Regions from separate parts of the Homo sapiens genome. Here region 1 is linked to region 2. Evidence: fine-mapped expression QTL. A gene starts in region 2. The other region holds a variant in brackets. All regions are shown on one strand. Distances are from middle to middle. Region 1 overlaps ARHGEF10 (Rho guanine nucleotide exchange factor 10). Region 2 holds the start of ARHGEF10 (Rho guanine nucleotide exchange factor 10).

Region 1 (14,532 bases), 27 kb after region 2:
CTCGCGCTCCGGCCAGTGGAGAAGGTGGACACTGACCGACGTTTCCATGGCAGGTCGTCTGCAGGGCCTGGAGACCTGGCCTAGGTCCTCCCGGGGCCTGCCGGACCACATGTTGCACATGGGCCTGGTGTCCGTTGCAGGTCTGGGGGGTGATGGAGCTGTGGAGGTCACGGAATTAACTGTGTGGGCTCCAGGCCCCTTGGCACTGTGGGTGTGGGTCTTGGGAGATGCTGGGATTTGGTCGTCTGTGCCCCCCAACTACGTGGACACTCTGGGCCCTCAGAGATTGTAGCTGGATCAGAAAAGAGGCAGCCTGGAAGTCAGGCTGTTCATAAGCAAGTCAGTCACCGGGGCCTGGTAGATGACAAAGACAGGAGAATCCAGGGGTCACCGGGGCCTGGTAGATGACAGAGACGGGAGAATCCAGGGGTCACCGGGGCCTGCTGGACGACAGAGACGGGAGAATCCAGGGGTGAGCAGTGGCCACCCCAGAAACAGCCAGCGACACCACAGGGGCCAGAAGGGATGCCCACTCCTGCTGCCGGGGGTCTGCGGTGGGGAACCAGGCCTGGAAGTCCAGCTCCTGGAGTTCTCCGGAGCCGCAAGACCACGGGGTACGGGACCCGGTACCGGAAACCCGAGGCCACAGCTCCACTGCTTCTCTTCTGGGGGTGACGTCGGCCGGTCTCCTTGCCTTTTTGTCGCCATGGTGCTCGTTGTCGCCACAGTTCACTTACGTGTGGATTGCTGGCATTCAGGCTCTGCCAGACTAGGTTGTTTTAATTGAAAATGAGGTCGGGCACCTCAGCTCACACCTGTAATGCCAGCACTTTGGGAGACTGAGGTGAGTGAATCACTTGAGCCCAGGAGTTTGAGACCAGCCTGGGCAACGTAGTGAGACCCCATATCTGCAAAAAGAATAATAATGTAATAATAATTAGTTGTAATAGTTGTAATAATTAGACCCCATCTCTGCAAAAATAATGATATGATAATAATTAGTTATGCATGATGGTGCATGCCTGTAGTCCCAGCTACTCATGAGGCTGGGGTGGGAGGTTCACTTGAGCACGGGAAGTTGAGGCTGCAGTGAGCCGAGATCCTTCCACTGAACTCCAGCCTGGGTGGTGGGACTGAGACCCTGTCTAAAAAATAAAGGTGGAACATGAGGCAGAGAGCAAAATCTTTTACTGCTTTTCATTCCTATCAAATGAGATGATGCCCCAGCAGAGCAGGGCAGTGGGCGTCATCCTGTGGCCTTACCCTCCACGGGCCCACTTTGGGCGGCTGTCCCTCCAGGGGCCCCCTCCCGCCTCCCTGCTTTCTTTTTGGCATTTCTTGGAAATGAGTGGTTGTCTTGGATAGTTTTCTGTTTGAAGGGGTGAGCACCAGAGCTTGCGTGCTTTTCTGTTGCCTCCCCTCCTTCCCACACACATGTAAGATGGCACACCATTAATATGGTGCCTTGACATGCTGAGGAGGCGGGTACAGTTGTTGGGGAAAGTTAAAAATGAAAGAAAGGCCAGGAAGCTGTCTCTGCAGGTAAGCGTGGAGGACGTAGGACCCGTTCAGAATCCCGTGGCAGATGGATGCTGCCTTTCACCCTGTTTTGCCCTCTGTTTCAAAGAAGGCGGAAACACCGTTTTCTCATTAAATTTATCTCCAGCATTTGCTGACGTCGTCATCAGTCCTGGCTAGTGCCTGGCACCCTGAGGAGCTCTGCCCAGCGGTACCACCACCTGGATTGCATGAAATGCCCATCCACCCATGGTCTCCACGACCAGAACTGGCTTCTGAAGAAGGTTCCTGGGCCCATAGGACTCCACTTTGTGTGTAGTTGTGCTAATCAGAGATGTGGCCTCTGATGGAGGCAGGACTGGGGGTGCCCAGGGTTCCCTGCAGCAGGACACTCCTCTGCTGGGGCTGGGGGTGTCTCCATAGCCCCTCCCTCTGCCCAGATTTCGACCCAGGGGAGAGTATGACAGGTCCACGCCCTCTGGGTGCAGCTGGACTGGCCAGGCCGTCCTTGGGCCAAGGCTACTGGATCCAGCCTCAGGGCTGGTCACTAGCTCCAGGCTGCAGGAATGTGGAGCTCTCCACAGTTCGCCACTGTTAACATTTCACCCAGGAGGGTGTCCTCGGGAGACCCTGGCGGGAGCCCGGGAGCCGCGGAGGGGCTGAGGAGCCGCCCAGCCCTCTGGCGGGTTGGGAGCGAGGCCCCTGCCCTTGCTGACAGGCCACATGACCTTGGTCTTTGATACAGAAAGCCACCATTTAATGACAGTGCTCTGGCTTGGAAACTTAGGTGAGTTTCTAGCCAATAACTTTTACGACAAATAGAAATAGGGATAATGGCCTGGTGTCTTTTCTGAGGATTCTGTGGTACTTTAATTATAATTTCCCCCATTATTAAGTCAACCGTCCACTTAAAAGTGCCCCTGAAGATCAGGATCCAGCAGGAAGTTACTGCGACCTCATTTCTTCCCTGCGTGGGGACACAGTTGGTGCTGTTACTTTAGATCATCACTTTTCTGGTTTTTTTCCCCATATTTCTTTTCTACATAATTGTAGTCATTGAATATAAATTTTTAACTTTTTTTTTTTGAGACGGAGTCTCGCTCTCTCACCCAGGCTGGAGTGAAGTGGTGTGATCTTGGCTCACTGCAACCTCCACTTCCCGGGTTCAAGGATTCTCCTGCCTCAGTCTCCTGAGTAGCTGGGATTATAGACACCTGCCACCATGCCCAGCTAATTTTTGTATTTTTAGTAGAGACAGGGTTTCACCGTGTTGGCCAGGCTGGTCTCGAACTCCTGACCTCAAGTGATCTGCCCACGTTGGCCTCCGAAAGTGATGGGATGACAGGCGTGAGCCACCACATGTGGCCTGATTTTTAACATTTTGAGTGTAGGTTTTTATACCGCGTTAACATTTGTGTTTGTGAGTATTTTCAGGCTGCTGCTCGTTTTTCGTAAGTGTCCTCCTCAGTGGCTGCTCTTGGGGCCTCCTGGCAGGGGTGCTGTTGTGTGTTCCAGTGGAATCATTCTTTAGTCCATGCCCATTCCTCACCTTTACCAGGTCCCTGTGCCTTCTCTAGAAATGTCTTTGGCAACACGTCAGGTCATCACAAGGGGAAGTGGTGTTGGAGAGGCAGCCTGTGCACCAGGAAAGATTTCAGGCTCTGCTGCCCAGCTGCTGGGGTTCAAATGTTGACCCTGAGGTGTGTGAGCTGATGACCTAAGCAGCCTTCAATTTCTGTCATTCCTGGAAAAAACAGAACCCCTCTCATAAGTTTGGGGAGGATTTGACAAGTTAGCATTTATGAAGTACTTAGACCTAGCTGGTAAGCACTCAGCAAATCCATTCAGAAGATGATCTGGGATTTCTCAGAATGCAAAACAAGTCACACTGCCAGCTAAAGCCTTTCTCTAATTAGTAGCAAAATTCCAATGCAAATTACATTAGGGCAAAAGAAATAAGTACAATTGGCATGTTAATGTTGGTTCACAAAAAATCATTTACCAAATACCTGGTAACTTCCATAATGAGCTCAGACAGACGCCAGCACTCACACTGGCATCGTCTCTGGGGGCAGCTTTGTTTCTGGGGGCAGCATTGTTTCTGGGGGATGGCACTGTTTCTGGGGAGGCCTCCTTCAGCACAAGCAGCTACAAACCGCAGTGACACCCAGAGCCAAGAAGTGGTTATGAATAGCCTCTTGTGGCTGAAGCTGTTTGCAGCCTGGTGCTTTTTAAAGGACTTTTCTTTAAACAATAGAGCTAAAACACAAACAGCCTTCATTCAAAATAAGAGAAAATCATATCCCGAGTTAAACCTTCATATGAGAATCAAACATGCTCTTCCAAGCCCCAGGAAAAGTAACACTTAGCTTTTATCTCTGATCTTAAAAAATGAGTATTACTTTAATCTTGTTCTCAGTGTGTTAATCGTTGCATGTCTTTAAAAGTTCTTCATGGACTTGGAACAGTCAGAGCGCTGTCTGCTCACGAGGGAAGGTGGCCCGGGAATGGGTGGCCTGCTTCTCCAGGGCTGGCGGCCAGTTCTCTCCCACTCAGGGTGCTGGGACCAGAGCCACCAGGTCTTGGTAGCTTGTAGAATAAATATTTCGCTAAAGAAAACAGAAAATTGAAGTGTTCTATGCGTCTTCTTTTGCATCGTGCATATTGTATTTGTCGTCCTCTCTTCAGTATCTCTGTAAAAAGAGGTACGCGGGGTCCTCCGTCTTAGTCCTCAGGTTAAGTGGCTTTGTACGCGCCACACGGCGTTTCCTACTTGTTGCAACATGCCCCAGGGAGGGATTCTTTCCATTCTGTGATTCCTTTCTATAGACGAGGGATGGGGTCTCGTGGCCAGCAAGCAAAGTTTGAACTCAGCTCTCCGACTCCAGAAGCCGTTCTCTAATCCACGACTCTGTACTTAGCATTTCTTGTGTAGATTTGTCCGGGGGCTTCAGAATAACACAGCAGGATGGGAGATGTGCTGCGCAGCGATGGGTGTGTCGTGGTTTCTGTTTGTTGTTTATTCAGTGAATGTTGTATTCACTATTAAATGTATTCACTATGTAAATGTAGGGAAGCTACATTTCAGGTACTACAAATGACTTTACAGTTTATAATCTAAATTGGGTAATTAAAAAAATTACAATGCATGTTAATTGTAGAATAAAAACTAAAATATAGACAAGTCACGAAAAAGAAAATACTTCACCTCTGGGAGATTAGTACTGTTAAAATTTTATTGAATATTCTTCCAGTGTTTTAGAAGTAGTCTTTTTTTTTCCCCTTGAAGCAAACTTTTAAATGCCGTTAATATAAGTGATAGTATCTGCATGGTTATGTTTCAAACATTAGCAGTTTTTTTCCCTGACAAACCTAGGCAGCACTTGTTTTTATATGTATAGTTTATTTAAAGTGAGAGATTAAGTTTTTTTATTTATGGCTTTATTAAGATATAATTCATATCTTAGTACCGTTTACCTATTTAACTTGTAAAGCTCCGTGGCTTTTACTGTATTCACAAGCATGTAGGACCATCACACAGTCAGTGCTGGTCACCCCTAGACACCGCTCCCCACCCCGGGCAGAGGGTAACTAAATTTTAAACTAAACTTAGATACTTTATTTGTACCCTTTTGCTCATTAAGAAAAGAGCACTTAAAACTAACTTCAAATTAGAATAGCCAAAATCCAGAACACAGATGGTAAATGCTGAGAAGGGTGTGGGGCGGCTGCGGGGACACAGACGGCAAATGCTGAGAAGGGCGTAGGGCGGCCGTGTGGACACAGCAAATGCCGAGGAGGGCATGGGGCAGCCACGTGGACACAGACAGCAAATGCCGAGGAGGGCATGGGGCGGCCACGTGGACACAGAAGGCAAATGCCGAGGAGGGCGTGGGCCGGCCGCGTGGACACAGAGGGCAAATGCTGAGGAGGGCGTGGGGCGGCCACATGGACACAGACAGCAAATGCTGAGGGGGGCGTGGGGCAGCCACGTGGACACAGGGCAAATGCTGAGGAGGGCGTGGGGCGGCCACGTGGGCATGGACAGCAAATGCTGAGGAGGGCGTGGGGCCAGCTGCGTGGACACAGACGGCAAATGCTGAGGAGGGCGTGGGGCAGTCGTGTGGACACAGACGGCAAATGCTGAGGAGGGCGTGGGGTGGCCACGTGGGCATGGATGGCAAATGCTGAGGAGGGCATGGGGTGGCCACGTGGTCACAGACAGCAAATGCTGAGGAGGGCGTGGGGCGGCCACGTGGACATAGAGGGCAAATGCTGAGGAGGGCGTGGGCCGGCTGCGTGGACACAGGGCAAATGCTGAGGAGGGCTTGGGCGGCCACGTGGACACAGACAGCAAATGCTGAGGAGGGCGTGGGGCGACCATGTGGACACAGAGGGCAAATGCTGAGGAGGGCGTGGGCCGGCTGCGTGGACACAGAGGGCAAATGCTGAGGAGGGCGTGGGCCGGCTGCATGGACACAGAGGGCAAATGCTGAGGAGGGCGTGGGCCGGCTGCATGGACACAGAGGGCAAATGCTGAGGAGGGCGTGGGCCGGCTGCGTGGACACAGAGGGCAAATGCTGAGGAGGGCGTGGGCCGGCTGCATGGACACAGAGGGCAAATGCTGAGGAGGGTGTGGGGCGGCCACGTGGACACAGAGGGCAAATGCTGAGGAGGGCGTGGGGCGGCCACATGGGCATGGATGGCAAATGCTAAGGAGGGCGTGGGGCAGTCGCGTGGACACAGACGGCAAATGCTGAGGAGGGTGTGGGGCGGCCGCGTGGGCATGGACGGCAAATGCTGAGGAGGGCGTGGGGCAACCGTGTGGACAGACGGCAAATGCCGAGGAGGGTGTGGGGCGGCCGCGTGGGCATGGACGGCAAATGCTGAGGAGGGTGTGGGGCAACCGCGTGGACACAGACGGCAAATGCTGAGGAGGGTGTGGGGCAACCGCGTGGGCATGGACGGCAAGTGCGGAAGACGGCATGGGCCACCCGCGTGGACACAGATGGCAAATGCTGAGGAGGGCGTGGGGCAGCTGCGTGGACACAGACGGCAAATGCTGAGGAGGGCCGGGTGCTGGCGGGTGGCTAGAGGGCGTGGGGCAGCCGCGTGGGAGGGCAGTTTGGTGGCTTCTTCAAACCTGAGCACACTCTTACCGTGTGACTTGCAGCCATGCCCCGGCGTATTTATTTAAATGAGTTGAAAACTTAATGTCCACTCAATACCTGCCCATATAGGTGTTGATAGCAGCTTTATTCATAATTGCCAGAACCCAGAAGCAGCCATGATGTCCTTCAGGAGGTGAATGGATGGATAAACTGGGGCCCATTCAGACAGTGGAACATTCAGTGCTAGGAAGAAATGAGCTGCCAAGCCGTGAAAAGACATGGAGGAGCCTTAAATGCATCTTACTGAGCGAGAGAAGCCAACCTGAAAAGGCTGCGCCCGGTGCGATTCCAACCACGTGACATTCTAGAAAACAAAATTATACAGTAACAAGCTCAGGGTTGCTAGGGGTTTGCGGGGGGGAGGGGTGACAGGCGGAGCACGGGATTTTTAGGGCCACGAAATTCCTTGATAATGGTGCATCCATGTCATTACACGCCTGTCCAAACCCATAGAAGGCACAGCACCAGGAGCGAGGCCTCACGCACACCGTGGGCTTTAGTTAGCGACGTACCTCAACATCATTACACGCCTGTCCAAACCCATAGAAGGCACAGCACCAGGAGCGAGGCCTCACGCACACCGTGGGCTTTAGTTAGCGACGTACCTCAGTGTTGGCTCCTCACACAGAAGGCACAGCACCAGGAGCGAGGCCTCACGCACACCGTGGGCTTTAGTTAGTGACATACCTCATTGTTGGCTCCTCACACAGAAGGCACAGCACCAGGAGCGAGGCCTAACACACACCGTGGGCTTTAGTTAGTGACGTACCTCAGTGTTGGCTTCTCAGTTGCAACAAGTGTTCCACTCTGGCAAAGGATGGGGGATAGTGTTGGGGGAGGCTCTCTTTGGGGGTGGGGAGTATATGAGAACTCTCTGTACCTTCCTCTCAATTTTCCTGTGAACCTAAAACTGCTCTAAAAAGTTGTATCTCTTAAAAGCAACCAAACTGGGGTGGGCACGTTGGCTCTTGCCTGTAATCCCAGCACTTTGGGAGGCCGAGGCAGGAGGATCACTTGAGTTCAGGAGTTTGAGACCAGCCTGGGCAACATAGTGCCACCTCGTCTCTATTAAAAATAATAAAACTTAGCCAGGCGTGGTGGCTCATGCCTGTAGTCCTGGCTGCTTGGGAGGCTGAGGTGGGAGGATTGCTTGAGCCCAGGAGGTCAAGGCTGCAGTAAGCTGCGATCGCAATACTGCACTCCAGCGCGGGCAACAGAGCATGACTCTGTCTCAAAAAAAAAAAAAATTAATAACCAAATGGAAATGAATCTCTGCTGCAGACCATATGAAGACAGACACAAGCAGAGGGGCCCTGTGGGTGTGGGGACGGCTCTCAGGCTCAGACAGGCCGTTAGCCGTCTTGATAGCTCGAGATTCAGGCCTGCGAGGTCCACTAGGCTCAGGTGTCTACAAAACTTAGAATTGATAAGAATTAAATAACAACAACAACTGAGGCTCTTGGTCACACTGGCCACCCCAAGTGCAATAGCCATGTGTGACTTGAGCTGTCCTGCGGGCCCTCTAGAACCTCTCCATCATCCTGGAGAGGACCGGGGAGCAGCACCGTTTCTGTCCTGAGGGCCCTCTAGAACCTCTCCATCATCCTGGAGAGGACCGGGGAGCAGCACCGTTTCTGTCCTGAGGGCCCTCTAGAACCTCTCCATCATCCTGGAGAGGACCGGGGAGCAGCACCGTTTCTGTCCTGAGGGCCCTCTAGAACCTCTCCATCATCCTGGAGAGGACCGGGGAGCAGCACCGTTTCTGTCCTGAGGGCCCTCTAGAACCTCTCCATCATCCTGGAGAGGACCGGGGAGCAGCACCGTTTCTGTCCTGAGGGCCCTCTAGAACCTCTCCATCATCCTGGAGAGAACCCGGGAGCAGCACCTTTTCTAGCAGCAGCATTTCGAAGATTGGATTGTCAGGTAACTTCCTCGCCCTTTTTTGCATATAGGCATAACTTAAAATGGGCATGGTCATATTATGTCATAATGATTGGAAACGTAATGTTTCTTAAAGTTTTCTATTTCATAACTTGTTTTAGAAATGTGTGCCTTAATTGATGAGCCAATTACCTGCATACTCACAAGTGTAAAAAGTCAGGTTGGTAAGAAGTCAGTGCCACCAAGGCAGCCCCAATGGCCCTGCTGTGACGGAAACAGTCTGAATCCTGAGGCTTAAATGGCTGCTGCTGTCGGTCAGCATTAGGGGTGTCGTGTCAAGCTGCCGGTGACCCACAAGGGCTGGCCCCTGAATGCAGCAGAGCCTGCAGTTTTCCTGGGAAGTGCAGCTGTGGCCAGAGGGCAGCCTGTCCTGGGCAGGCCAGAGGAGAGGGGCAGGGGAAGAATGGTCCCCAGGTTAGATTTGGGCCGGGCGCTGGCGGGTGGTTAGATTTGGGCCGGGCACTGGCGGGTGGTTAGATTTGGGCTGGATGCCTGTGGGTCGGCACGGGCTGCACTGCCGTCTGTGTTTCCTCCTCCGTGTCATGGCCTTCATGGGTGACTCTCAGAACCTGCCGTCCTGAGTGGGCAGGAGGGGCACAGAGCCTCTCCCTAGGTGCAGCCCTGCCCAGGCCGCCCTTCCCTGCTTCCCTGCCAGCTGCCTACCCAGAGCGCCGGGCCCTTCCCGCCCACCTCCTGGGCTCCACAGGGACCAACGGGCGGAGAACACTGGGCCATGGTGTGTCCAGCGAATGACGGCTACACTGCAGATTCCCCAACAGCTTTTTGAAAGATCCATGTCGTCTCAAACTACAACACGTTGTATCTCCTGAGATGCTTTCAGCAGCCCTTGAGCATCTTTTCTAGTTTGCAAATTGTAGTTTTTCTCATCAGTGTTCTCCTTCAGCTGAATGGCTGGGTTCTGAAGCTGGGGTTTTGAGAAGCGGGAATTCCTTCTGTGGCTGCAGCAGGAGTGTTGTGGGAACCGACCCAGCCCAGCTTGCCTGGCTCCCGCCAGGGCCCTGAGGATGGCACAGGACCTTTTGTGTTGGAAAGGGCTTGGCCGAGCTTGCGGGGGAGCCTCCTGGGTTGCAGGCCGGAAGTCCCAGGTCAGGGTGCTGGCAGGCTGTGTGTGCTCCCCGGGAATGTAGGTCACAGCCTTCCTTGCCTCTTCCAGCGCCCGCCGGCTGTGGGCACTCCCGGGAGTTCCTGCAGCTGCACTGCCAGGTGGCTCCTCGTCCCTGTGCTGGCCTCTGCTGTCATGAGGACACTGCCACACTGGGTTAGCCGAGCCTGCTCTAGCACAGCCTCCTGTAAACCAATTGCACCTGCAGTCACCTGTTTGCAGACGAGCTCACCAGCAGACTGGGGGTGAGGATTTCAGCACAGGGATTTAGGGGACACAATTGAACCTGTCAGGGCTGGTGTCAGAACTAAACTTAGGACCCCAAATGCTGGGATTTTTAAAGGCATTCTGCATTGCACTTCACTAAGGGACCTGGGGAGCTCGGGTGGGGTCTGTGATGCCCAGGATCCCCCAGGGCCCAGGGCAGTGTCTGGGATGGACATGCTCAGCACACACCACCTTGAACGCCCGGCCCCATGCTCACCTCAGAGGGCGGCGCAGCCTCACCATCGATGGAGGCCCCCTTGGAGGTGGGGGTCAGAGGAGCAGCCCAGCTCCAGGCGGCCTCGCCCTCTGTCCTGGGCGCCCGCCGTGGGCACAGCTGTGGGCACCCATGCAGGCAGGGGTGCAGCCTCAGGTGGTTACATTGAGCACAACTTCTTTGAGTTCTTGTAGAAAGGCTATTTTTTTCTTACTGGAACTGAATTCTGAGAGGAATTTGTAACACACATCATTCTGCAGAGTCTATATAACTTGAAAGTCTTTCCCTGCAGTGTTTGCAGAGGATGGAGGGCAGCTCCGCCAGTGTCTGCCAGTCTTTCAATGACAGCAGAGAGCTCTTGAATTCCAAGCCCCAAGCCCCTTCCAAGCCCCTCCAAGTCTAAACTAACAAGATTTAAACTTTTGGAGGAATTTCTTGATTGCTTTGATTTCCCTTGTATAGTAGAATTCTACTTAA[A/AG]TTTTACTAGGGGAAAAAGTGAGTTATTTTGGCAAAAAACAGTTTGAAGCTTGCTCATCTGCTCGTCATTCTCTCATTCATTCGCTCACATGATGTGCGTGTCACACATTGCCGCCAACCAGGTTTCCCACTGCACCTTGCTGGGCGGTGAGCAGAGGTGCCGGCTCCGAGAACGCATGCGGTTCTTCTCAGGGTCATACCTGTACCTGGCACACGGGACATGCACTGTCCCAGGTAATCCCACCGGTCTCCCGGGGCTGGTGTCACAGCCCAGGAGGTGGCGTATGGGGAGGGAGTGGAGGGGCCTCGGTGTCTCCTCAGGGCTGTTTCCTGCACACACGGGCTCCTGTTCACGGCCTTCCTTCCTGAAGACTTTAAAGAGAATTCCTTCTTCCTGTATGGGGTACAGTGTGGGTTCCGGTCCCAACAGCTCATGTTTCTCCCCTTGCAGATATTTGAGAGCCTATTTTGTACCAGACATTGTCAAGCTTTTTTAAAAAACAATATTTATAGACTCATGTCTAGGTGTATTTTATCTAATTGTTTGAGTTCAGCGGTAGTAAACTATAATTTCCAAAAAAGAGAGTTGACAATATAAAAATCTAGTGTGATTGTGTCACCGTCTGGATGAATCTGAACATGTGCCTGGCAGTGACTTTTTTTGGGGTGGTCAGAACAGAAACTTTTTTTGGGGTGGGGGACAAGGTGTTGCTCTGTCCCCCAGGCTGCAGTGCGGTGGCGCAATCTCAGCTCACTGCAACTTCCGCTTACTGGGTTCAGGTGATCCTCCCACCTCAGCCTTCGGAGTAGGTGGGACCACAGGTCCACGCCTTCACCCCAGGCTAATTTTTGTACCTTTTTTTTTTTTTAAGAGACGGGGTTTCACTATGTTGTCCAGGCTGGTCTCAAATTCCTGGGCTCAAGCAATTAGTCCTCCTTGGCCTTTGAAAGTGCTGGGATTACACGTGTGAGCCCCTGCGCCCAGCAATACATAAACATTTTCACTGATCATTTTCGTCACGGCATTTAGTCGGCATTGTTTCCGCAGCACGTTTATTTGGCAAACATGATTTTTTCTCCCCAAACGTGAATTCTGTGGAAATGACAGTTGCATTTGGAAAATATTCCAGAAAACAGTTTTTTTGTTTGTTTAACTTTTTACTTTAAAAGGTATTCACCAGTTCATTTCCATAAACTGACTACTTAATGATATGGCAAAAAAAAAAACCCCTTCTGAAATAGGTTTTGTTTACGGTCGCTTGGGAGACAGTGAGGACTGGTTTGAAAGTACATAGTTAACAAGGCTCAAACTCTGGAAATTAGCGGTTCTGTCCATTCCAGCTCTCCCCCTGCTTCGATTGTTTCATTTGATTAGGCTTAAATTCAAAACTTTGAATTTAGAGAAGTCTTTGACCCTCTAGGAAGTGGGTGAGGCTTTGGTATCTGGGCAGAGCAGAGTTCACCATCCAGAAGGACAGCAACACACACTCCTATCAGACGTATGTTTTAAAAATAACACATTTCTGAATCCTTTTTCTTGATTCAATTTTAGTATTTGTCATTCTCATACTTGTAAAACTCGTGAGTGTTGGTGGAAGCAGTTCCAGAAAGCTCGTGGGGTCCCCAGGTGTCATGGTCAGCTGGGGGTCTCATCCCCACCGTCCTTGCAGTGGTAGCTGGATCCAGTTCACGCTGTCGTGGGCCTGGGCCCCTCTGTGTATTTGTGGTGACCTAAAAATCTGTTTCCTTCAAAAGGCACTCCTAGAATGTATGACTAGTTTAGGAGATTCAAAGGAAAATGAAACACCTCAAATTTAAAGGTTGTTTTTAGACCGCTAGAGTTCCCCGGGAGGCGACTTCCCCAGGAGGCTCGGCAGAGAGCGCCTGGAGACTGCGTGGAGTGTAAGTGGGTTGTGTGTCTGTGGGTTGCTCCCTAGCAGGGCTCCCCCTCAGCCCCCTCCGGAGCTGCCTGCAGCCGAGCTGGGCCGTCCTGCTTGGGTGCATCTCCCTGGCCCACGGGGGATTGTCTGTGTTGGAGGGGCTTGGTTTGGGCTGACCCAGGCTCTGTCCCGAGGTGCCACCTGCTTCTGTGGATTGCCGGGCATGGCAGCAGGAGGTTTCCTCAGGAACGTGTGCTGGGAAGAAATCCCAGCCCTTGGGAAAGGCTGGCAGGGGCTGGGTTCCTCTCGCTCCTGGGTGTGCCGGGTGGTGTTGTCCCAGCACATGGGTCTCCTCTGGAAAAAGGAGAAGCACCTGTCTGCTCTGATGGTGGCACACAGTCCTAGCACGCCGTCTCTGCAAATGATGCACACGGCAGGCTGCGCCATCAGCCGTAACCCCGGTCCAAGGAGACCTGTGACTCGCCTCCTGCAAAATGTTTCTTATCAAGCACTTACTTGGAACAGTTATTAACCATGCTCTTTAATAATTATGGAGGTTTGTATTTTAAGCTATATATCGGTGTTCATATTTGACACTGATTTTCTAACCATCAGAGATATTTAATTAAAATTGTAAATAAGAGAGGCAAAATGAAAATAAAAGGAGAAGAATTCTAGGGAGAGATGCAAGGTGTCAGAAGTTATTTCTAAAAGTAAAGTGGATGATACTGAATTCTCTTCCAGACCATCAGCCCAGCCGGGTGATGTTCATCTGCTGGGTGCACAGATTTAAAATGTGAAAAGCTCTTTTTTCCCCTTACTTTCTCTTGTTTTCTTTTCTTTTTTTTTTTTTTTGAGACAGAGTTTTGCCCTGTCACCCAGGCTGGAGTGCAATGGTGCAATCTCGGTTCACTGCAACCTCCGCCTCTCGGGTTCAAGCCATTCTCCTGCCCCACCTTCCTGAGAAGCTGGGATTACAGGTGCCCGCCAACACGCCTGGCTAATTTTTTTATTTTTAGTAGAGATGGGGTTTCACCATGTTGGCCAGGCTGGTCTCAAGCTTCTTACCTTGTGATCTGCCCACCTTGGCCTCCCAAAGTGCTGGGATTACAGATGTGAGCTACCACCCCCAGCCTCTTGTTTCTTCTCTGTGAGTTGTAGATCCTATTAAAAGAAAATAAAAACCAGTGACTCAGAATTCTAATGATACTTATTTTGCCCCTTAAAAAGGTTAACTACAAGCGCAGTACAGCACAGAGGAACTTAGTCAGTGTCTCTGGCTAACATAGATCGATCGATCTATCTATCTATCTATCTATCTATCTATCTATCTATCTATCTATCTCTCCTTGATGTGGTTTTGGTTTTTCTTTTTAGAAAATGAAATGAAATATGATACCAATAATAATGAAGAGGAAGAGGGAGAACAGTTCGATTTTGACAGTGGAGATGAAATCCCAGAAGCGGACAGACAGGCCCCATCCGCCCCTGAGACAGGAGGTGCTGGAGCCAGTGAAGCCCCTGCACCCACAGGTGAGTTTCCAGGAGGGTCCCCAGGTGAGTCCCCAGGTGGGTCCCCAGGTGAGTCCCCAGGTGGGTCCCCATGTGAGTCACCAGGTGAGTTCCCAGGTGAGTCCCCAGGTGAGTCCCCAGGTGGGTCCCCAGGTGAGTCCCCTGGGGGGTTCCCAGGTGAGTCCGCAGATCACCGGCATCAGGGTCACCTGTGCTCAGCCATCGGACTCGCCGATTTTCTCCCCATTCTTACGGCCCAATTGGAACATTGTAGGGAAAGGATGATTTCTAGGAGCCAGAGAGTTATGATTTCTTCATGATGTACCTGAAAGGACTTAATTTAAGATTGGCTAAGTTTCTTCTCTTTGTACTATTTTCCATAATTTTCAACCTTTTCACTCTACCTTTGTATTTTGCAAAGAAAAAGTA
Region 2 (15,396 bases):
CGCCCACGGGGAAAGCCGTCTGTAACCATCCGAGCCTAGATACTCCCTGTTTACCTGCAGACACACCCACCGCACGGCCCAGGAATACGGCCACTGCGGAAGTCAAGAGGAGACTGCTGCGTTCCCTTTGAAACAGCCCAGGGCGGCTCATCAAGGCTGCAGAAAACATTACAGCCCCACAGGCAGGGCTGCTCCGGCCTTCGTTTAGCAGCTTGATTGAGGCGTCATTGGCACACGGCGAACTGCGCGTCATTAACGTGGGCGGTTCAGTGAGTTCTGAGGAACGCATAGCAGGTGGATCCGTCGCCACAGTCGGGAAAGCGAGCACGGCCTCTCCGAAGCCTGCCCGGCTCCTCGGGAACCTGCCTCCCGCATGGCAGCTGCTGCCCTTCGGAGGCCGACCCGACCCATCCCTGGGTGCTGTCTAGGTCACTGTCCTTGTGTGTTTTTGTTTTACTTTAGAACTCTTATAAAGACACAAACCGATGAGTAGAGACAAACTCACACTAGGAAATGGACTGGGTGTGGTTTGCAAAGCGGGGAGCGCGGTCTGTGTCCGGAACCCTCTGAGCTCAGGCAGCGTCCTGGGCTGTTTCCTGGGGCAGCGGCCACAGCCGTCCTATCTGCAGAGCATCCTGCTTTCCTGGAGGGCATCTGCGATGGCCCCCAGGCTGTACTGTTCCCTGTAAGTCCCGAGCCCCCTGTGGGGACAGGCGCTGGGAGGGGTGTGGCCTGCTGGGGGCTCTCGGATGTGTTGCCCCAGGGAGCCCGGCCGGGTGATGCCTCGGGGTGACTGGGGACGGCAGGAGGGAGGGGAAGGCAGGGCGCGGAGCAGTGAGGTCGGCAGCTTCTTCCCAGCGCTCGTCGACACTCCAGCCTCTTCAGCCACGTCTGGGGTTGCGTGAGCCCAGACAGAACTCATGGCTCGAGGCTGGGAGGCTGAGAGGCCTGAAGGGGGCCTCTGATTTCCATGTACCCCCTGCACCCCATGTTCGTGTGGCCTCCGCACTTGCCCAGGGCCTCTGCCGTGTGACAGCCCCACCCCAGCCCCACGCTGCCCCAGGGTCTCCCTGGAGCGCCGTCTGTCCTCTGCCAGGCTGTACCTGGGTCCCGTGACTGAGCGGCACTGGGTGGAGACTCACTTCCTGGCTCTTCTCCCATCGCAGCACCTGAGCAGCCCCGTGACTGCGGCCTGAGGTCTGCCCCACGTGCGCTGTGGGCCAGGCAGAGCGCCAGGTGCACCCAGGATGCCTTCATCTTCACCGCCGCTCCAGAGCCAGGGACTGGTGACTAACCCTGTATCCACGAGATAGCAGGCTCAGTACGGTCAGGGACTTGTCTGAGGTCTCACATCCAGGGTTGTTCGCCGTCCCCGGGCTCAGTGTCTCGCTCCCCGCCTGCGGAGTGGAGTAGTTCTGAGATGTGTGCATGCCATCTCCCTTTCAATGGCGCCATCCTACAAGTGGCCTCAGCCAAGGTTCAGCCAGTAGGAGGCAGACCTGGAGAGATTTAGAGCCTGGATCCGGCACCACGATGGGGGCCTGGGAGCGAGGTCCAGGCAGGCAGGCCGTGGGAAGGGCAGGCTGGACCTGGGGCAGAGCTGAAGCTACCGCCCACAGCGGAATTTCTTCTCTGGAAAGCCTTTCCAGTGCTGAATCGGGCCCACCCGGATTGTCTAACATAGTCTTCCTCATTTAAAGTCCACTGTGATGGGTCTTTTGCACACCAACAGAACACCTCCACAGCCACATCTGGACCCATGTTGAATGAATTACCGGGGACTGTCACCTGGTCAAGGTGACATATAAAACTGACCCGCACAGTAGGTGCGAATGTCTTTCCAATTCTTTGCAGGAAACTGAGGCACAGCAATGCAGATAGCACAGCTGGTAAGGGAAGTGCCTGGGATGTGAACCCAGGAACTGTGCCCAGGAGTGGATACAAGCTTCCATCTTCGGACAGTGCCTCAGGCTCCCCCGAGATGTCCATGGGGTCAGGTGCCCTGACACCGGTCTCTGCACATGAAAGTGTTGAGTCTTCATGCTGCCTAAGTAGGTTTTGCTCTTGTTTTCAGTGAGGAGACTGAGGCCCAGGACATTGAATGACGCCCATGTTCATCCATATAGTGGTAAAAGAGGCAGAAGCCCCCGGGCCTATTTGATGATAGAGCCCAGGCCTTTAGGCCCTGCTAGAGCTGACCTCACGCACCCGCTCCGCGTGGGGCATGGAGACGTCTCTGGAGTAGAGGCGAGGCCTAGAACCAGGCAGGCTGTCTTTGCCATTTTTTTCCTTTCTGAATGTCCTAACTAGGGTATAGATTATCCCTACCCTCTGCATGGGCCTTGCACTTAATTTGCTTGCAATTAATTAAGGGATATTTTGTATTCCGTCAATAAAGGGAATCATTATTTTTTTAAAGGAACCCAGCTTTTAAAACCCCTTTTTGCTGATACATAACTTAATTTGTTCCTGCTACTGTAACAAAACACCAGAGACTGGGTCATTTATAGACAACAGGAGTTTATTTCTCACAGTTCTGGACGTGGGGAAGTCCAAGATCAACGTGCCAACAGGTTCAGTGTCTGGGGAGAGCCTGGTCTCTGCTCACAAGACAGCACCTTGAGCACTGTGCCCTCACTGGTAGGAGGGGTGAACAGCCCCCTGGCACTTCTACAAGGGCACTAAGCCCATCCCTCATGACCCACTAACCTCCTCAAGGCCCCACCTCTTACTGCTATCACGTTGGTGATGAACTTTCAGTCATCAAGGGGGATGCATTGAGGCCACTGTATATATCCCATGAAGTAGCTTACTCTTGTGTTCGGCTTGATTCTATTTACAAAGTGAACACACCCATGTGTCTGCAAATCAAATCAAGATGTAGTCACCGTTTTCATCACTCCCCAGAATTCCTTTGTCTTTTCTGAGACAATACCCCCAAAAATAACCACTGTTCTGATTCCTATTATTATAGGTTGGTTTGGCACATTCTTGAATTTCATAAAAATTGAATCATACTATATGTGCCCTTTTGTCTATGTTTTTCATGTTTTCAAGATTCATTGTTATTGAACATATCAGTTTCTTCCTTTTTATTACTGTATTATTAGTATTCTATTATTCTATGAAGATACAATACTTTATGAGTTCACCTGTTGATGGAATTTGGGTTGTTTCCAGTTGCGAAGTATTTGAACTGTTTTGAAGAAAGAATTCTTGTAAAAATCATTTTTTTTTTTTGAGACAGGGTCTTGCTCTGTCCACCCAGGCTAGAGTGCAGTGGTGGTGAACATGACTCATTACAGCCTTGACCTCCCAGCCTCAAGCGATCCTCCCACTTCAGCTTCCTAAGTAGCTGGGACTGGAGGTGGAGACTATCATGCTAGACTCCTGGGCTCAAGCAATCCTCCACCTTGGCCTCCTAAAGTGCTGGGGTTACAGGTGGGAGTCACCATGTCTGGCTGTAAAAGTCTTTTAAGGGACTTATGTTTTCACTTGCCTTGGGCAAACCTAAAAGTGGGATTGCTGAGAAATGGGCAAACAATTAATCAGAGTGGTTGCGCCATTTGCACTCTCATCGCCTTGTATAGTGGTTCCAGGGGCTCCACATTTTTACCCTTGCCATGTCGGTCTGCAGTTTCAGCCGTGCTTGGATGACGGTGGTGGCATCTCATTGTGAGTTTACTTTGGGTAACACTGAGCACTATTTCCTGTTCTTGTTGGCTATCAGTACATCTTTGGTGAAGTATTTACGTCTTTTGTTTATTTTTAAATAGACTTGTTATTGTTATTTACAGGCTTGTTATTGTTATATTGTTTTGTCCCTTTTGAAATAGACTTGTCTTGTTATTGTTCATTTGCAGGAGTTCTCTATTTACCAGGACTATGGTTTGAACGCGTTTTCCCCAAAGTTTATGTGTTGGAAACTTGACCCCCAATGCAGCAGTGTTGGAAGGTGCCTACTAGGTGGTGTCTGGGTCATGGGGGTATGACCCTCATGGATGGATAAATGCCATGACTGAGGCGGTGGGCTCCTTATAAAAGAATGAGTTTGGGTGAAACCTCGTCTCTACTAAAAATACAAAAATTAGCTGGGTGTGGTGGCACATACCTGTAATCCCAGCTACTCGGGAGGCTGAGGCAGAATAGCTTGAACCAGGGAGTCGGAGGTTGCAGTGAGCAGAGATCGCACCACTGCACTCCAGCCTGATGACAGAGCAAGACTCCGTCTCAAAAAAAAAAAAAAAAAAGATAAGTTTGGCCCATTTTGCATCCTCCCTCCCCACCTCCGCCTCCCACCTTCCGTCATGGGATGATGCAGCCCGAAGGTTCTTGCCAGATGTGGCTCCTTGATCTTGAACTTCCCAGCCTCCAGAACTGTGAGAAATAAATTTCTTTTCATTGTAAATCACCCATTCCCAGGTATTCTGTTACAGCAGCACAACGTGGATTAAGACAAGCCATTTGTGGGATATATGCATTGCCCCTGTGTTCTCCCAGTCTGTGGCTTGCCTTTTCATTTTCTTAATGATGTCATGAGATGAGTAGAAATATTAAATTTTGATAAGCCATTTAATCATTTTTAAATGGTCGGTCCATTTTCTGTCTTACCTGAAGATCCGTAAGATCTTTTCTTATATTTTATCCTAGCAACTTTATAATTTTTACACTTAAGTCTATGATCCATCTGAAATTCCTAAATTCTATTTTAATCCTAATAGTTTATTTGTAGATAATTTTGTTTTTTAACATATATAATCATATTGACTGTAAATAATCAGTTTTTCCTCCCTCAATCCTTACACTTTTTGTTTTTATGACCTACAACACTTGTTAGATGCTGCAGGACAATGCTGAATAGACTACGGAGAGTCAAAGATTTTCATACACCCTTATCAGTACAAGTAGATAAAAAGTACAAGTAGATAAAAAGTACAAGTAGATAAAAAAATCAGTAACAAATATGACCTAATTGACATCTGTAGAACTTTATGTCAGTGAAAGCATGTTCTCAGCAAGTGCTCATAGAACATTTACCAAAATAGACAATGTTGGGCCATGAAGCAAGTGTTTGAAAATCTTAAACGACAAAAATAAAACAGCTGATGTTTTAAGGCCCGGTGGAATTAAACTTTAGTTACAATAAAAAGAAAACCAGAAAGTCCCCATATATTTGAAAGGTGAACCTAACTTTTCTAAATATCCCATGGGTCAAAGAGGGAATCACAATGGAAAATCCCAACTCTTCCATATCCGGGCTTACGAAAATAGGGATGTATCTGTGAGGAACGCCTGAATAAAGCAGACAGACAGGATCTATTGGAGCTCCAAATCAGGGGATTTTCTGCCCAACCTGCCTGGAAGGCATTGCTCTGTGGCCCTACTCAGTGGTGTCCCTGGCGGCCCTGAGTTTAGGGGCTCAATTTCATCCATTGAGAAAATGAGTTGTTTATTCCATACACAGGACTATTTCCTCTTATCTCTACCTTTTTAGAAAACACTACAAGTATCAGGATTTTCTCATCGTATTTAGGTAAACAAGAACTAATTTAGTTGACCTTCTTACTTCTGTTGATCAAGACCATTGATCTGACCATTGATCTGTGCAGAAGATCTCTGAATAAGGTACCCAGAGAACCCTAGGAATAGAAACCTGAAATAAGTTTTCTAATCTTAAGGTCGCTGAGAGCAAATACCTTTTTCAATTGATTCATAAAAACAACTCAGTCTGATTTCATAAAATTAGCAAGTGTGAATAATAAACATTGAAAAAATATCACCTTACCTACGATTATTTTTTCCAGCCATTGTAGTCTTTCTATGTTGGCTATGATTTTTACATAGTCCAAAATTTTCAGGGAAATAACTTATTCCAGAGCACACAAGCCTTAAGGGCAGTTAATGTTTAGATTAATTTCGTGATACTTAGCATCCCAAATAGCTGTTTGTATTTCTTCTATAAAACAAGTGAAAGGGGCTAGAAATCTCTAAGAAGTCTGACAGTTCTAAAACACTGACTTAAAATTACTTCTATGATTCGGAGATTTGGGTAGGAGAAGGCATAGAAATAAATCTAGCATCTGCGAACACACTTGTTAAATGTGCTGACCAGGTAAAAGATAACATCCTTTAGTTATTTTGGTTAAAAATGTCTTTGTTTCTCGTTTTTTTTTTTCTTTAATAGTAATTATAACGATAATCTGTTTCCTTTTTAAAAGTATAAGACAAATAAATGCTCAAAGTAAACAATTCCAATAACTCAGAAGGGGCCATTCCCTGGAAAGGTCCCGGGAAAAACGAGCGCTTCCTGGCAAGAAGCAAGCTTCAAAAACTGCCTCGGAAACGTGGCTGAAGTCATCGCATTTCCAAACGCCCAAGCCTTGGCTGGTCCAGGGCAGCTGGCGCGGAAGACCCGGAACGCCCTGTGGGCAGGGCCAGCTGCGGACGGAGGGACGGGGGCTCAAGGGCGGGTCGGGTGGGGTCCCGACGCCCCCTCCTCGGCTGGGCGCACCCCGGGTGTCCGCAGGGAGGGGCGATGTTCTGGGGGGGGGAGCGTCTGCCCGACGCCCCCTCCCTCAGGTGAGCTCAGCCCGTGGGGGTCCGCAGAAAGGGCGGTGCTCTGGGAGAGGGTTAGGGTCTGCCCGGCGCACCCTCCCCAAGGGGCGCAGCTCTGAGCCGGGAGCAGGCTCTGCGGGGAGGATCCAGATGTTGGGGGCGGGGAGGGCACTCGGTCTGCCCAGCGACCCCTCCCGAAGTGAGCGCGGCCCGGGGTCCGCGGGGCAGGAGATGATCCGGGGGCGGGAGCCTCTGCCGCGCGCCCCCTCCCACGCGTGCGCAGCCTGGGCCGGGCGTTGGGCAGCGGGAGGGGGCGCGGGCGGCCACGTGGCCTCGAAGGAATGCGCGGGCGCGAGGGCAGGGCGCTGCCGAGAAACCGGCAGGCTCTGCGGCCAATGGGCGCCCGGAACGGTCTGGGCCCGCCAATGACAGCATGGTGGGTGGAGCAGGCCGTCCGGGCGGGAGGGGCTGGGCGCATCCCTGTAGCCGGCGGGCGCGCGATCCGGGACGGACGGGGTCGCGGGGGACGCGGGGGACGCGGGGGACGGCGGGGAACGGCGGGGGACGGCGGGGAACAGCGGGGGACGGCGGGGAACAGCGGGGGACGGCGGGGAACAGCAGGGGACTGCGGGTCGCGTCCTGGCCGCCGAGGTGAGTGCGGGCCCCGCGGACCGTGGGTCCCCTCGCGGGCTTCTGGTTTCCTTTGAGAGTTGCACTTCTGCCCGGCTCCCCCGAAATCGCTGGGTCCCACCCGGAGGTGGCTGCGCCCCCGACCCCCTGCGCAGATGTTTCAGGGAAGGGGCTGAGACCCCCTCCCCCCGAGCAGCTCCCCCTTCCGCGGCGCCCCCGGCCCCTCAGGATAACGGCGCGGGCCTGGGCGGGGGGAGCAGGGACTGGCAGCAGGGACCCCTGGCCCCAGGGGCAGGAGCGAACTCCGATCGGCGGAAGGAGCCCGAGGGGCGAGCTGGCTTCGCCTGGGGGGTCGTGCAGTAACTTAGATTTTCCGGTAAAGGAGAAGAATGCGGTCCGCCTCAGGATGCAGAGAAGGACCGGTGTAAGGAAAGCCGGCGTCTTTCCCCCGCACCCTACCTGTCCCCCTACCCCACCAGTTCCCCGCACCCCGTGTACCCCGCCTGTCCCTCAGCACCCCCTGTTCACTCTGCACTCCACCAGTTCCCCGCACCCCAGCTGTCCCCCCGCACCCCACCTGTTTACCCTGCACCCCAGCTGTCCCCCGCGCCGCAGCTGTCCCCCCCACACCCCACCTATTCCCCCGCACCCCGCCTGTCCCCCCGCACCCTACCTGTTTATTCTGCACCCCACCTGTCCCCTCGCACCCCACCTGTTCCCCCTGCACCCCACCTGTCTTCCCCACACCCCACCTGTTTACTCTGCACCCCAGCTGTCCCCCCACACCCCACCAGTTCCCCGCACCCCGTGTACCCCGCCTGTCCCTCAGCACCCCATGTTAACTCTGCACTCCACCAGTTCCCCGCACCCCACCTGTCCCCTCGCACCCCACCTGTCCTCCCCACACCCCACCTGTTTACTCTGCACCCCAGCTGTCCCCCCACACCCCACCTGTTCACCCGCACTCCACCTGTCCCCCCGCACTCCACCTGTCCCCCCGCACCCCACCTGTCCCCCCTGCACCTCACCTGTCCCCCCGCACCCCACCTGTCCCCCCGCACCCCACCTGTCCCCCCGCACTCCACCTGTCCCCCCGCACCCCACCTGTCCCCCCGCACCCCACCTGTCCCCCCGCACCCCACCTGTCCCCCGCACCCCACCTGTTCACCTGCACCCCACCTGTCCCCCCGCACCCCACCTGTCTCCCCGTACCCCACCTGTTCCCCCGCACCCCACCTGTCCTCGCACCCCACCTCTCTCCCTGAACCCCACCTGTCCCCTGCACCTCAACTGTCCTGCACCCCACCTGTCCCCCTGATCCCCACCTGTCCTCTGCACCTCACCTGTCCCCCTACACCTCACCTGTTTACCCTGCACCCCAGCTGTCCCTCGCACCCCAGCTGTCCCCCCCGTACTCCACCTGTTCCCCTGCACCCCACAGCCCGCTGGTGCCCAAGAAGCCAAGGTAGATTCTGAGGAAACTGCCCTAGGTCCACAGACGCCCTGCCCACCTGTCCCAGCCCCACTCCCCTTCCATGGGCCCCTGGGCACTGAAGGTGAGGTCTGAGTACCCCTCCCGACTGTGGCCAGTAGGTCATGTTCCCAGGCAGCAGTAGACGAACTTGCTGTTGTCTGATATTGATTCCAGTCACTAACTTTGGCTGCAAGTAAAAATTCTCATTGACTCAAGATGTAACGGGTTTTAATTCTTTTCTCTGGTTAACCATAACCTGAGTACGGACTGGTCAGTATTCTAGATTCTGTGCAGGAGTGACTTAATGTCCATATGGGTGGAATGCTGCAAGGAGGAACAATTTCACTGTTGCTGATTAATAATATGTTTTGAACACCTGCTTTATAGAAAATAATTTTTATTCGAAAAGAGAGATGATTACTGAGGTTTACACGTCATGTATTTTTAAAAACACACTTTGTCCCTGTCTGTCTCTCACAGCATTTATTTGCTGGCTTTAGCAGCCAACATCGGCAGTTACGGATGCATAACTCTTTATAGACAGATGAGACCTCCAGGATTTCTCAGCAGTAAGAAAAGTCATTTGTATAAGGTGCTATTTGTAATTCATTAGTTGTAGACAGTTGGGGGTGAAGTGAAGTTAAAAGTTATTCAGAATAGCTTTTTATGTTTTTAAAAGTTGATGCTTGACTTCCAGATGTAACCACATTTGTCTTCTGGGTGCTTTGGTGTGCTGCCTTTCCTCTGCAGTTTGTGTGTGCATACGTGTGCGTGTGTCTTTGTGTATGTGTTTGTGTTTGTATGCATGTGTGTGCGTTTGTGTGTGCGTGTGTTTGTGTGTGTGCTGTGTGTGTGTGCGCTTTGTGTGTGTGTGTGTGCGCGTGTGTGAGTTGTAGATAGAGGCGTTGGGTGGTGTGGAGGGTGTGGAGTTACAGACCTGGGTTGAGGTGGGGAAGCTTTTCCCTGGCCCTGTGAGTCCAGACTTCTCACGGGACTTGAGGGTGCTCACTTACGAAGTTGCTAGAAGGCGTTGTATGGGGAAGTGCTGCTTAAAACAAAGATGTTTGGCATAAATTAGAGCAAACTGGAAATGCGCTAATGACGGTTGTATTCTGTAAGCGATGTGAAAACGTCATAGTGAGATGTAAGAAAGCGCTGTTGTAGGCCCGTCATTGTTTACTGCACAGTGTGTGGCAGGAAGCATGCAAAGAACAGCTCGGATCTGGAGATGCTCAGAGAATCTGTGTTTCATGCGTGCGTTGCTTATAGTTTGCCTGGGTAGAAAGGTAAGTGGCGTGAAATAAGACAGAAGGGAAGCGTAGCTGTTAGTCATTCATGAGGGAGAACTTCAGCTCTCTCCCTTAACCAGGCTTTCTGGGAGTGTAATTTTGGAAGGTTCTGGGAGCTCTGCAGTGGAAAGGGGTGGGCCAGGCCCAGGGGCTGCCAAGGGTCTGAGAGGCAGGGAGAGCAGAGGCCGGTGACCAGCAGGGGTCCTTGCCTGGGTGGCAGACAGGGCCACAGCCCCAGGTCCGTCTAGGGAGGGGCAGGGTTACCTGTAAGGACAGGTGTGGCAAAGGGGCCCAGGGAGAATGCCCTGCCACCAGCCCCCACGCTGATACACACACACTTCTGCCACATCTGCCACCCTACTCTGCTTCAGCCTGTTCATAGTTGTCAGGTTTGGACATTGGTTTTGGTTCTGTTTGTTTGTTTTCTGTGAGTAGTTTTCCAAATTTTGATAAAAAAGTGATCTTTTTTTTTGAAATGGAGTATCACTCTGTTGCCCAGGCTGGAGTGCAGTGGAGAGATTCGGCTTGCTGCAGTCTTTGCTTCCCAGGTTCAAGCAATTCTCCTGCCTCTGCCTCCCAAGTAGCTGGGATTATAAGCACCCACCACCGTGCCCGGCTAATTTTTGTATTTTTAGTAGACGGGTTTTGCCATGTTGGCCAGGCTGGTCTTGAACTCCCGACCTCAAGTGATCCACCTGCCTCAGCCTCCCAAAGCGCTGGGATTACAGGCGTGAGCCACTGCATGCCCCGTCAAAATGATCATTTTAAATCGTGGATTTTTCCTTTCCTTCCATCATTGCCATTTCCTGCTTTTTGTTGTATCATTAGAGTAAAGCAGGCCTGCCAGTAGAAAGTGCTATATGGGGGTTGTTGGTATTTTATATTTTTGTTAAATGATGTGAAAAAGGTGTAAAATATTTTTAAAAATGTTTGGGTTCAAAGTTTTTCTCTTCCATGGGTCACTTCTGATAGGGGAAATAACTGTGTAAAGTAAAATATGGTATCCAGAGCTGTGACTGGTGCGGGGGCCCTTGTGAGGGAGCGATGGGGAAGCATGCAGGTTGTTAACAGGCACATGTAGAGATGCATGGCTGTCTGCGTAGAATAGGCCTGGCTGCATCAGCATTGGCTAGTTACCAATCTGGCCATTCTAGGTTCCAATATCTTAATGACCGTCAGTCCCTGGGGACTCACAGTGGGGGTTTAATGAAGAAAACAGAAGGAATGGTTGTGGTACCTCAACACTCTGCCTCCACTGATAGCTACAGACAGCCGAGGCCCTTTTCGGCACCAGGTGAGTCGGGGTGAGTCAGGCTCCTGCAAGTCGTAGGTGTTGCTTCCGTGCTGAGATCACGTTCTTTGTTTTGTTTTGTGCCCGTGGCTTGTTGTCCAGCTGTGGGGAACAGACCCTTACACTTGGATGTGGTCGTTATTATGTTGTGGAAGAGCAGTGCCTTCCTCTTAAAGTGCCTTCCTCCCTTAAAACCGTGGCATGCACACTTAACGGTTTTAAGGAATTACATTTTGATAAACCGTGGCATGCACACTTACTGTTTTAAGGAATTACATTTTGATAAACCGTGGCATGCACACTTACTGTTTTAAGGAATTACATTTTGATAAACCGTGGCATGCACACTTACGGTTTTAAGGAATTACATTTTGATAAACCGTGGCATGCACACTTACTGTTTTAAGGAATTACATTTTGATAAACTGTGGCATGCACACTTCCTGTTTTAAGGAATTACATTTTGATAAACCGTGGCATGCACACTTAACGGTTTTAAGGAATTACATTTTGATAAACCGTGGCATGCACACTTACTGTTTTAAGGAATTACATTTTGATAAACCGTGGCGTGCACACTTAACGGTTTTAAGGAATTACATTTTGATAAACCGTGGCATGCACACTTACTGTTTTAAGGAATTACATTTTGATAAACCGTGGCATGCACACTTACGGTTTTAAGGAATTACATTTTGATAAACTGTGGCATGCGCACTTACTGTTTTATTCTATCGTTTGCTTATTTTTTTTTTCTGAAAGGAAAATAAAGCAGTGATTTCAGTGCAGTGTCTGATTTTCTGTAAGGAACATGAGAAAAGTGAGTCCAAAGAGCATTACATAAGCTAGCGTGGTATTCAGTGCGTATCTGAGCGGACACGGACGGGGAGTCCTCGAGCTTTGGAGAGGAAGCAGGCGGCAGGGCCTCCAGCACACCTGGGGGGCGGCCAACCAGCCCGGCCAGGCCGAGCGCTCCCCGCCTGCACAGTTGCACTCATGTCGGGCCTGAGCTGAGTCGTCCCGACAGGATACCTGCGTGGGCCGTGTAGACACAACCCAGGGAGCTCCAGAGTTAATGACCCTCCTGGTTCAGAAGCTCCGTATGTTTTGTGTGAGAAGCGCTGAGCTGTGACGGAGGGAATGCGGTGGGTCTTCCTGATGGTGCGTGCAGTTCTGAGCCTGGCGGGGTCAGCGGCATGGAACCAGTGGGACGTGGTAAGGCCAGGCCTGTGGGCGGTTGCCCTGTGTGGGCCGGGCCAGCTTGAAGTCCGCTGAGGGCTGGAGCCAGCCCCTGACCCTGGCCAGCCTGCTTGCTGCAGGAGTGATAAGAAAGTCGACTCATGCTTTGTTCTCAAGCACTTGACTCAGCAGGCCCGTGGGAAGCAGCCCACACGAGAGGCCCTGACCCACGTCCAGCTGCCTCCACGGAAGCCGCGGCTTCGTGGCTTTCTGTCGTTTGTGTGGGCTCTGCATTCAGCCAGCAGAGGCACTTCTTGCAGAGCAGGGCTGAGGAGAATTCCTTTCTCTGGAAGCTGTGGTCCTGTGTTATGTAGAATAGGTCACTTTTCAGCTGCAGCTGGAGTCTAAACGAGCGTCATAGGTGCCCAGCGCTGCACGGCGGCGCAGCGCTGCATTCGTGGTCCCGAATCCGGGGTCTGCGGAGGAAGAACGCGCGGCGAGGCCCGGGGAGGCTGCTGGGACGGCGGCAGGCACCCTGCTCCTGGAATGGCGTTTAGACATGCAGGTTTCTCCATGATTTAATAGGAAGGAATGAAAGGTGCAGCGTTTTGCCAGCTGATGAAAATATCTGGGGAGCGAGTCATAGGTAGCGGTAGCAAGAAGGAGAGGGTTAGGTTCTCCAGTGTGCAGGCTCCGAAGTGCTCTCTGCCAGCCGTCAGAGGGCTGCAGTTTGGAGGCAGCTCCCGCTTGCTCTAAAGAGCCACTTCCCCGCTCCGTTCTGTCTGCAGACGGCCCCAGAGGGCAAGGACTCCTGGTGACAAGAGGAGTATCAGACGAAGGCAGGGGAGGGAGGCTGTGTGCGCGCACCTGTAATCCTGGGAGATTTCCACTGCAATCCGCAGGCATGCGTGGCAGGCGGCTCATTTCCCGTGGGGCTCAGGCGGCTCATTTCCCGTGGGGCCCAGGCGGCTGTCCTTGGTGGGCGCTTGACTCCTGGGCGTGGCTTCTGTCCAGCATCCAGGCTGCCAGGAGCCTCCGGGGGCCGTGCAAACACCTGCGAGCACCTTCTTGGTCCCTTGAGGCCTTTCTCTGTTGGCTTAGGTTTAGTGCCCTTTTGTGCTTATGTGTTTTTTGAATCAAGTTTTTATACTTGATTTAACTTCTATAAAAAGAAACAACCTTTGCACATGAAGAAAATCTACCTGTGGCCATATGACAAGCACCGGCAAATCTGGAAATGACCTATTAAGAGACAGGTGTTTCATGAATACCGCTGCGTGCTAAGTACTAAGTGCTCTCACGCCCCAAGGCAGGGTGTGAACCGCAGAGACCATGTGCTTGCCCTGGGGGGCTGGCACCCTTGTCTTCAGGAAAGATGATTTAAGAAGTAAAGTAATATGATGAAAAGCTGCGGAAAGAGAAGGCATACACGGGGCTACAAGGTGGAGAAATAAGGCATACACGGGGCTACAAGGTGCGGAGAGGAGGGATTTGAAATTGAATAGGAGCCATGGCAGGCGAGGCGCCAAGAGAATGGGGTCATTGCCTGAAATGCCACTGGAGCCGAGAGATGAGCTGAGCCCACGTCCACAGAAGCCCATTCCCAGTGGGAGGAACAGCGTCTGCGCGGCCCTGAGGTGGTGCACCCAGCATGTCCAGGAACAGCAGGTCGGCCAGGGCTGGAGGGCCGAAGGCAAGAGGGGACTGGTGAATGCCAGGGCAGCGGGGGAACTGCATGGGAAGAAGCCTTGGAGGCTCTGTGTGTCAGAGCGGCTGGAAGGGCCACGGGCCAGACCCATGGAGGGACAGTGTGGGAGAGCCACGGAGGGGCCATGTGACAGAGAGCTGTAGCAGACAGGGTGATGGACATCCATGGAGGGACAGTGTGTGGCAGCCGTGGAGGGACAGTGTGACATCCGTGGAGGGACAGTGGCAGCCGTGGAGGGACAGTGTGACGGCTGTGGAGGGACAGTGTGACATCCATGGAGGGACAGTGGCAGCCATAGAGGGACAGTGTGACGGCCATGGAGGGACAGTGTGACATCCATGGAGGGACAGTGGCAGCCGTGGAGGGACAGTGTGTGATGGCTGTGGAGAGACAGTGTGACATCTGTGGAGGGACAGTGTGACGGCCGTGGAGGGACAGTGTGACATCCGTGGAGGGACAGTGTGACGGCCGTGGAGGGACAGTGTGACATCCGTGGAGGGACAGTGTGACGGCCGTGGAGGGACAGTGTGACATCCGTGGAGGGACAGTGTGACGGCCGTGGAGGGACAGTGGCAGCCGTGGAGGGGCCGTGCACAGTGAGTGGTGAGCGAGTTGGGACGCGAAGGCTGCTCTGTGCTGCTGGGATTGCTGGTGTCAGCGCCCACTGCAGAGTCCTGTGCTGCGGCTCATGTACTGCTGTGCGGGTCGTGCACTGCTCGCTCCTGGACACCTGCACAGGGTGCTCCTGATGGAGTCACTTTTCAGTGTGTTGACTTTCACGTCGATGACAGGCAGCTTTTTCTCATTCTCACCATGGGATCCTATGGGGCTGTGGCCCTGGGTCAGGAGTGCCCTGGAGGGTGGCACATGGCCGGGTGGAGTTGGATGGGCTCCCTTCCCGCAGCTGCCTGTGGAAACCAGCACGTTGGCAGGAGGGGAGGGTGGTGCCCGAGCCTGTGGGTGTGGCCGCTGGGGACTGGGTGTGGGGACAGGAGTCTGTGGAATGCGGTGCTTCCTCCTGACTGTGGGGCTGGAGGAGCAGCGGTGGGTCGAGGGTGGTTTAGTCCACCCAGGGGGTCCTGTGGCCCCGCTCTGCTGGTGCCTGTCGAAGGGGCAGCTGCAGTCGAATCACCACGCTGCTCCAAGGGAGTCTCCCAAGGGCTCCAAGGGATGGAGCGTCCGTAGATGCCCGGAGGAGTTGCGGTGGGCGGGGGGCGCGTTGTGTCCAAGGCTGTGTCGAGGGTCATGTGCAGCCGCCCTTGCTGTGGAC

What was found. PIP is the estimated chance that this variant, and not a neighbour inherited with it, causes the effect.
Region 1: its variant is fine-mapped to the expression of ARHGEF10 in whole blood (TOPMed, PIP above 0.99).

Annotation. Positions count from the first base shown.
Region 1 is chr8:1,843,992-1,858,523 of GRCh38, forward strand. It overlaps ARHGEF10 (Rho guanine nucleotide exchange factor 10), which reads left to right. Exons shown (of 29, transcript NM_014629.4): 3 at 13,969-14,124. Among named protein-coding and RNA genes, the nearest start is that of ARHGEF10, 27 kb to the left of the region's middle. RefSeq lists enhancers at 1-67, 1-767. The variant A/AG (reference allele first, on the strand shown) is at 10,712.
Region 2 is chr8:1,816,908-1,832,303 of GRCh38, forward strand. It overlaps ARHGEF10 (Rho guanine nucleotide exchange factor 10), which reads left to right and starts at 7,019. Exons shown (of 29, transcript NM_014629.4): 1 at 7,019-7,206. MIR596 (microRNA 596) reads left to right here and starts at 324; the gene lies at 324-400. RefSeq lists enhancers at 1-291, 11,887-12,803, 12,804-13,719.